Linked DNA regions of Homo sapiens: region 1 is linked to region 2. The links come from fine-mapping of genetic effects on gene expression. A gene starts in region 2. The other region holds a variant in brackets. All regions are shown on one strand. Distances are between the middles of the regions.

Region 1 (4,398 bases), 160 kb before region 2:
ATATAACCTTAGCTTACCTTAAGGTTAAGTTTTAAAAATCCTTTGTTTCTTACTTCATAAGTTTTTTAATTTTTTAAAACTATTTGTCTCTCTTGTAATACTACCTACTTTAAAACACAAGCACATTGTACAGCTGTACAAAAATATTTTCTTTCTTTATATCCTTCTTCTATAAGCTTTTTCCTATTTTTATCTTTTAATTTTTTTTTGTTAAAAACTGACACACAAACACACATTAGCCTAGGCCTACACAGGATCAGGATCATCAATATCACTGTTTTCTACCACCACATCTTGTCCCATTGGAAGGTCTTCACGGGTAATAGCACGCATGGTGTTGCCACAACATTATAATGGTTACAATGACACTAGGCAATAGAAATTGTTTGGCTCCATTATAATATTATGGGACTACCGTCATTAATGCAGTATTGTTGGCTGAAATGTCATTATGCACCTCTCTCTCTCTCTGAGGAAGACAGAAGAGCTGCTTTGAACAGAATACTGTTCTATATGCCATCTGCATATAGAACTTCAAAAGTCTCAATAGAACCAATGTTCTTTGTCCAAGTTGATAAGGTAAAGAGCCCTGCATTGAGCATTAAAATAACTGACTATCCTGTTTTAGAGATGGAGGTACTCACACTATCAGGAAACACTGAGATGTTTAGCAATTATTAACAGTGAGAAATACTTTCTTATGTATGATATAGTCTTCCATTGGCCTTTTGTCTCCAGCAAAGATACTGGGGTACCATCTTCTGGGAAATCAGCCTTGAGAGAGTTATTTTCACCTAAAATTTGAAGGCCATCATTCAAAGCGCTCATTTTTTTTTCCCCTTCCCTGGTCAAATTCACTCGCAACTAAATATTTTTATTCAATCTTCTTTATCTTTTTATTATCTTTGTGGCTACATGATTAATATTTCTCTGAAGTTTGGTCACTATTAACTCAGTATAGTGCTGTACATTTATACTAACACATGGTCTACACCAGATCAAAATTATATCATATGCATTACCAATGTTCGAGTTAACAATTTATAAACTTCTGCACAGACATGCAGTAGTAGGCATTGCCATTTATGCTAAATTTCTGATACTAATAAACTATTTAAAACTGATGATTTTAGTTCCATTAAAATGCAGAATTTAGGTGAGGTTCTAAAATATTTTAATATTCATCGTATGGCACCCAGTTGTTTTTTCTTTTGTAATTTTGAAAAATTTTAAATGTCATTACATTTATAGTAGAAATAATCAAAGTCCACTTTCATTTACCACTTAGTTTCATGAGTAAAAAGTTCAAGTGAAATGTTCAATTTTTGTGAATTCACAATTAAAACCTTCAAACATTAGCTGAAATTTTCCAGCAATATATTTTATTTGATTATCTAAAGAGGGGGAACAAATTCTAATTGTAGCAAAGCATTAGTAAAGATAAGTGAAGCTCATGTAACTGTTATCCTCAAAGTCATTATTAAGTTATCTTGTGCTCATTTGCTCATGTTTAAACAAGATTTTCCATTTGCACACAGCAACAAAGTAGTCGTCAATATGCCAGTAACCACACAGTGATAAGAAAGAGCACAGCTATGTGAAGTTTAGAACAGCTCCTTTATTCAAATATCTACGAAATAAGAAAAAATTTGTAATGTACCATATATAAATGCAGTATGACGAAAAGTTATCAATAAAAAATATGGAAATAGAGTCAACATTTGTGTAGACTACCTTTACTAATGTCTAATCAGGAATGATCACTGAATATTATCTTGAGCCAGAAAGATCTTTTTAAAAATTCTTTGTCAATCTATTGCCAAGAAGTCCATTTCCACAGCTCTTTA[A/T]CTTTAATAAACTATTTTTGGCAATGGGAAAAAAGAAAATGGAAAAAGAAATCAAGTGGAAATTATCATAACAAAATAAAAGTGACACAATGAGAAAGAATCTTAAAAATTAATCCCCCACCCTGATATTTTGGGGGAAAAACACTCAATTTTTCTATCATATATATTTTTCTTTTCTCTCTCTCCTCTGTGTGTGTGTGTGTGTATGTGTGTGTGTGTCTGTGTGTGTGTGCATTTTCCATACTACCAATGGGAGGCTGAAAGCAATGAAAGACAAAACATTGTAAGCATTTTTAAATATTCAAAATAAAATACAAAATAAATGTACCGCAAAGTCACACCTACCAGGCACCTGTATCAGTTCTACTTTGAAGATACAGAAAATGCTAAAGAGTTGTTCAAGTAGTAGGGCTAAGGACAGTAAGTCTCTTTATAGCTGCCATCTAATAAGGTTTTTTAAATTTTATATTTTTCTGCTACTCTGCTGCATGATTATACACACACACAAACAGACACACATCTACATACACACAGTTGGTCTTCTATATCCATGGGTTCCACATCTGTAGACTCAATGATTAGTAAATAGAAAATATTCAGGGGAAAAAATGTGTCTGTACTGAATATGTACAGTCTTCTATTTCTTGACACTATTCTACATCTAATAAAGTTAAAAAAACTATTTAAATAGCAATTACATTGTATTAGGTATTACTAGTAATTTAGAGATGATTTAAAGTATATGGGAAGATGTGCATAGGTTATATGCAAATACTACCATTTTATACCAGGGACTTGAGTATCCATGGATTTACCAATACCTCAGATACTGAGGAATGACTCTGTGTGTGTGTGTGTGTGTGTGTGTGTGTGTGTATGATGTTATGCTAAGTGATAAAAACAGATTTACAACTGATGTATTTGTTTAGGAAATTGACATCAGGAATGCAGCTCATTTATTTTAAGATAGTGTACTTGATAAAAAATACACTTAAGTTATACTTAAATATATTTCATTTATATTAAATATATTTTATTTTAATGTATTAAGAGTATTTATGTATATATTTTCTCACGAGAATTTAGGCTCTTTGAAAATGTATCATACATCTTTATCATTTATAATTACTACCTTGCACCCTTTTTCAATAATTGTTAAAATCACATCTGGAATCCCATAGCAATTGATGACATTTGGTTATAATTAGAGATTAAATCAAGTATATTGTATTTACTTAAAGTTTATTCAAATAATATTTTCAAAGTTAAAGAAAGGCCCATTATTTATTTCACAACACAAAATCATATATTGGGTAGTCGGAATTAAAGCAATCTAAATTTCCTAAAGCAAAGGAGATAGGTTTCTTTTTTCGTTTTCATTGTTTCAAGTAAAATGATTGTTTTTCCATAATTTAGAAAACAATAGTATCTTCACCGAAAAAAGTCATAGTTAAATGTCTTCCCACATCACACAAAAGATTTAAATTAATTATTGCTTATTTTTTCCTGTTTAAAATGCTAACAAGCTTAAAACATTATTTATATTTCACAGGAAAAATGATTCAAATTATCCTAATTAATGCAAAATTACCAAACCAAAATCTTACAAAAATTAGATGAGTCAGTTCAAAAAGTTAGATAAAAAGTCAAAGGTTGGCTCAAAAGAAGCAGTTGTACCTAAATGATTAAGTAACCACTTCTACAGAGGTATTTTTCACTCTGCGTTGGAAAGGTGCACTGAGGTTAATCTAAATGTAGCCTTTTTCATCTGTATACCAGTTTCCAGACTGTCTTGTGTGGTATAATTTACTTGTTGCTTGGAAAACCATAAACAAAAATAAGTGACACTATTACATGTATATGTGTAGTGAGACATTACTTTTTCCATGTTTTCTCCTCTAACCTAAAACTTTCTTAACTCTCCAAGCAATTGCAGCCTGTCTTCAAATACCACCAAATCAACCATTTTGAGTTAAAATTGGGCTCTCTGCCAAGTAATTAGTCATGTCTCCAATTGCCTTATTAGATTTATTCATGACGGAATCATATTATGACCAGAAAAAAATCAGAGCCCCAATAAAAATCCAGTTGAGCTGTCTAGGCATCACTTAAAATTAATGTAACAAAAATAAATTTATTCATAAATGCATTATATACCCTCACAGATAACCAAGTCTTGAAAAAGTCAAAGCTCAGAATTGTAATTATTTTTTGATATTTCAACTACCCAGAACTAACCTACATTAAATCTGTTTTTATATATTATAACTTTATATGACATCATTCTTTTTTTCCCCTTAACATTAAAAACAGTTTCCCATATAACTCCAGTGCCTGTGTGATATTCTGTAGATCCTCACTACTCAAAGTGTTGTTTATGGAGCAGAAGCAACAGCATCACTTAGGAGTCTGTTAGAAATACAGAATTTTAGACACCTCCCCAGGCCTACTAAATCAGATTCTGCATTTCACTATAAATATATATTATTATACACATACACACACATACATATACACACATAAATGTATATTATACACATACAATATATAT
Region 2 (4,398 bases):
AGTCCCCCGGGGCATTTACAGTTTCCAATGGATCACCTTAGTATGCGTGTTGCAATTATACCAGGGATGCACCCGAGAGCTTTTCTTTGTGCGGCCCTTTCATCTGGATCACTTTGTGTTTTGAACAAGTGAGGCTCGCCTTTGTGCCCCCAGAATTTCAAGTACAGAGTCACACACGGAACAACAATGGCACGCTAATCCTCGCGCTCTAAATGGGCTCACTTGTGGGTCTGACAATTCGCCCAGGGAAACGAGAAGAGACGAAGCGAGGGCGCGAGCTAGTGTCGCCTGAGACGAGGAAGAGGACAGCTGCAGAACTAATTTGGATTACATTCCTTGCAGAAATTCTGAAAAGGGCTTTTCGGCATAGCTCAACTCGGAGCCGCACAGTTAATACCAAATTGCTGCGGACTCGGAGCGGGGTCCCCCAGTGGCAGAGGCTGAACCAGACAGCCCCCAGTAGGTCGCCTCGTAGAAATTCCTCTCGGCTAAGCCTGCATGTCGGTCGCCAATGCCTTTGAATGGGTCAATGTGCATAATCAACCCATTGAGGGAAAATATGAAGGGACTCGAAGTGGGGAGGGAGATAAAAAGAGATGTATCTAAGAGGCCGCTTGGAATGTCAAGTCCGTGTTGGTGTGATTCCGGAGGTGGCTGGAGCGCGGGACCTGGTATGCGTGAAGAATTTCGGAGTAATTGGGAGGGTGCAAACGGCCAGCACAAACGCCTCACATGTGCCATTCGAAGGTCATTTTGAAAGACTCGATAATTGTAACTTGTTATTTACTAGGCAAAGGAGGCGGCGGCGGCGGCGGCGGCGGAGCGGGAAAACTACAGCTAGCCGTTTTCTTGGTGAGGTCAGAAGGACACCCTCCGGGGGCCTAAAGCGCTCCCTATCGCCACTCCCGGGGGCTTTATCACCTCAAGCTACTTCCCACGCTCCAGTCACCATCCCTGGATGGTTTCGGAAATCTCTCTGGCTCTCCAAAAGGCACCCCTTGGCCACGTCAAGACACCGGTCCTCCTCAGACCTCTCCCGTCCCACTTTCATCCCCAGGAAACTCTAGTGTCAGAAACTTTGAGCTCCATTGCACTGCAGGTGCTGTCATTAGTCCTGCAAGCCGTGGCGGGCCAGCCCCGCCGCGCTGCCTCTCGGGGTCAATTAGCCCTTTGCCTGCCCAGGTACCTGGGGCTCGAGCTCTCCAGCAAGCAGTGGCCGCGCACCCATCGCCGCTGCCGCTTTCGCCTCGGGTGGATCCAGTGACCCGCAGGCTCGGCAGCCTGGCCGGGCAGTAAACAGACAAGTTTGAAGGACTCCGGCCAATAGCAAGTTGAACTACAGGAAGAACTCTTCCCGGAGCCAAACACGGCAACCGACGGGAAGGCCGGGCTTCTGGCTCAAGTGTGCCAAGCCTTTTTTTTTTTTTTTAAGAGGTCAGGCAGGCGAGTAAGCGCCCCTCAAGTCAATGGGGAGAGGGCTCCGGGAAGCCGGCGGAAGAGGCCCAGAACTCCGGGCCCCGGACCGAGGCGCGCCCGCCTGCTGCACTCCGGCTGCCCGGGCTGGGCGCGAGTTGCGTCTGACGCCACAAGGCTCGGGCGACTGGGGGCGCAGCGGTCGCCAGCAGCACACACAGGTGCAAAGCCCGATTTTCTGAGCGCCGCTCTCCACCGCCCTTCGGGCTCGGCTCGGGAGAGGCCCAGCCAGCACCGCCCCAGGACCGCGGCCCCGGCGGTGCGGGTTCTGCCCTCGGGGACCCGACAGGGACAGAAGAGTCTCCTCTGACTGGGGATTTGGGTCTCCCATGTCCCGAACAACAGGCGCCACCAGAAGGGATCCCGCTTAGGCTCCCAAACAAAACGCTCGGGAAAGAAAAGCAGGGGGTTAAGGAGAGAAAAGAGGGACTCAGAGTGATTTTTCACGATAAATAAAGCAAACGCACACATACAGGGTAAGTTTCAAATGGAAAGAGGGGTGACCGAAAGCCCAGGGAAGAGGCCCCGGTCAAGCGGTCCCTCCACGCCTCCCGGGATGGGTGAAGAGGGCAGGGGAGCCACTCGAGGCAGCCCCGCCGGCGGCTGCAGGTTCGGCGACCGGAGTGCCAGAAGGAACCCACCTGACTGAGAATCGCTGGGCTGGACGGTCCCCGCCGCCACGAGAAGGCTCACCCAGACCCAAAGTCCTGTCGCCGGCTTCATTTTTTGGAAGTCTCAGATCCCGTGCTGACAATTACATGTCCAAATGGCATATCCCCCTTTCGGGCACGCGGAGGAGATCCCCCAGCCGGGCGCGCGTGGGGGTGCGAGGGGGGCGGGCGCGGCGCGCGCGGTGTGGCGACTCCCAGGGCGGGCGACCGAGTCCGCGCCCGCGGGTCCAGGGCCGGGGCCCGAGGAGGGGGCGAGTGTGAGCGCGTGTGTGCGCGTGTGGGAGTGTGCTCGGTGTGTGCGCTTGGCGCTCTGGGCCGGACTGTGCAGCTATTTCCCCGCGTGAGCCTTCGCTTGCTCGCTCCCTCCTCACTTTCTCTCTCTCTCACTGGTTGGTCAACAATAAAAAAGGAAGGGGGGCGAAAGGTTTCCAAAAAAAGTTGATTGCAAAGAGGCGGTAGGTTTCCGGCCTCTCCCCGCAGCCGGGCTATGTTCTGCTCCTTCTTCAGTTTCCTTGCACCTCCAGTCCAAATCGGGAGGGGAGCGGGGCGGGGGGAGCTTCTCGCTTCTCCCCGGATCCCGTCCTTCTTTTTCCTCTCAGCTTTCCTCACACTTGTCCGGCGGCTGCGGTAATTAAAGCTCCGAGCGTCATTTCCAGCGCTCCGCGGTCTCCAGCTGCAGCCCACAGAGAAATTAATAAGACTCCAGAAAAAAAAAAAAAAAAGGTGCGGGGGGCGGTGGGAATAAAACAACCCTCCACGCAACCAGGCCGGCTCTGCTCAGCCGCGCAAACCCCGCCCATGCTCTGACCCAACTAGCCACGCCCTTCCCCCCCCCTTCCAAAGGGAAATCTTATTGGCTCAGCCACTCCCCAAAATCCTGGGCCTCCGGAGTTGGGAAAACACCTGTCAGGGAAAGGGAGCCTCTTGGTGGGGGCAGGGGAAGCTGGATTTAAAGGGCTCACCGAAGCCATGCACTGAAGCACTCGTCTTCCCTCCCTGGCAGAGGCCTGGGACAGCTGGCCTGCTGAGTGGACGGACCATTGGAGGGCCGCTTACGGAAATTTTTTTTTTTTTTAAACAAGAAAGTCAGCATTTTCTCCGTTGCCCCACGGTGCTCATCTACAGACAAGACTTTCCCTAGAAATAAAAGTCAATGTTGCTTTCAGCAAAAAGCCTCCGCCCGCAGTACTCTGCCACTCATGGTCCACAATTAGAAAGTACTTTAAAAGTGTGTACAGCAAGTAACTGGTAGCCCCTGAGGATTAGGTAGTGGTAGGGGTATAATCACCGCCCCGCCTCCCGCCCCCAGTTATGCCATCTCTCCGATTACTCCCACATTTCTAAACTGACCAACATTGAGCCAAACTAAACTTTCACATTTATAAAGGCATATCCTTTGATTTTTAGATTTTATGTTTTTTTTTCACCTTTGGAGTTCATTCTTATTAAGCAGATTCTAGTCCAAAGCCACTGATTTGATCTTAAAGGGCTAGAAATTGTCCCCAGCCTGAAAGAATTTAAGGAGGCCACATCAGAACATAATTAACCTTAAATGATTCTGTTTATTCTACAGTAGACCCAGCTTTAGGCCCCTTCCTTGTCCTCACTCTGCACATTCATGGTCCCTAATCTGGAGGTCATTGCTAGTTACGAAAGTCTCTGACCTTTTCTGAATCTAAAATATTCTGGGACTGGGTCATTTCAATGTACATATCCCTTGCCTTTTACAGCTCTGAAACCGCACCCTGGCAAGGGCCAGAATCTGCTGGGGGTAGTTATTGGTTTGCTATTTGTACAGGCATTCTATGTATGAATCACTTTCCTTTTTTGGTTTTTCTAGAAGCAGCAAATATATAAATAAAAAGTATCAGGGGAGCTTAAAAATCAAACCACCCTGCCTTTCATTTGAGACCTTGATCTCCATTTCCCACTCTCTTATCTATAGCCCCATCCCTTAAGAATTTCCATGGAGCTGAGAACAGATAGGAGGTACAGATGCCTGAAGCCTGAAGCTTTCCCTTTCTTAGACCCACAGCAAATAACAGGCTCCATGAAGACGCCCAACAAGCTGAGCGTGCGGTTTTACCAGAAGCAGCCTAGGGCAGAGAGGAACTAAGCCTAGAGCAGATGACGGAGACTTGACCAGAATGGTACTGATTGCAGCAAAACTGTGCACACTGCTCTTTGGGATTATCTTTGTTTTCTTTTCTTTTCTTTTTTTTAATTACTCTTTCTCTCTGTTTTCTCTTCTTTC

Direction of the effects. Positions count from the first base shown, and alleles are read on the strand shown. Sizes are in standard deviations (SD) of each study's normalised expression.
With allele A in place of T in region 1, the expression in stomach of the gene that starts at base 2,468 in region 2 is lower (small effect, 0.17 SD a copy in GTEx).

The links. PIP is the estimated chance that this variant, and not a neighbour inherited with it, causes the effect.
Region 1: its variant is fine-mapped to the expression of ERBB4 in stomach (GTEx, PIP 0.93).

The regions. Positions count from the first base shown.
Region 1 is chr2:212,377,767-212,382,164 of GRCh38, forward strand. All of the region lies in intron 1 of ERBB4 (erb-b2 receptor tyrosine kinase 4), which reads right to left. Among named protein-coding and RNA genes, the nearest start is that of MIR548F2, 46 kb to the right of the region's middle. The variant A/T (reference allele first, on the strand shown) is at 1,848.
Region 2 is chr2:212,536,335-212,540,732 of GRCh38, forward strand. ERBB4 (erb-b2 receptor tyrosine kinase 4) reads right to left here and starts at 2,468. Exons shown (of 28, transcript NM_005235.3): 1 at 2,115-2,468. The coding sequence starts at 2,196. RefSeq lists an enhancer at 999-1,499.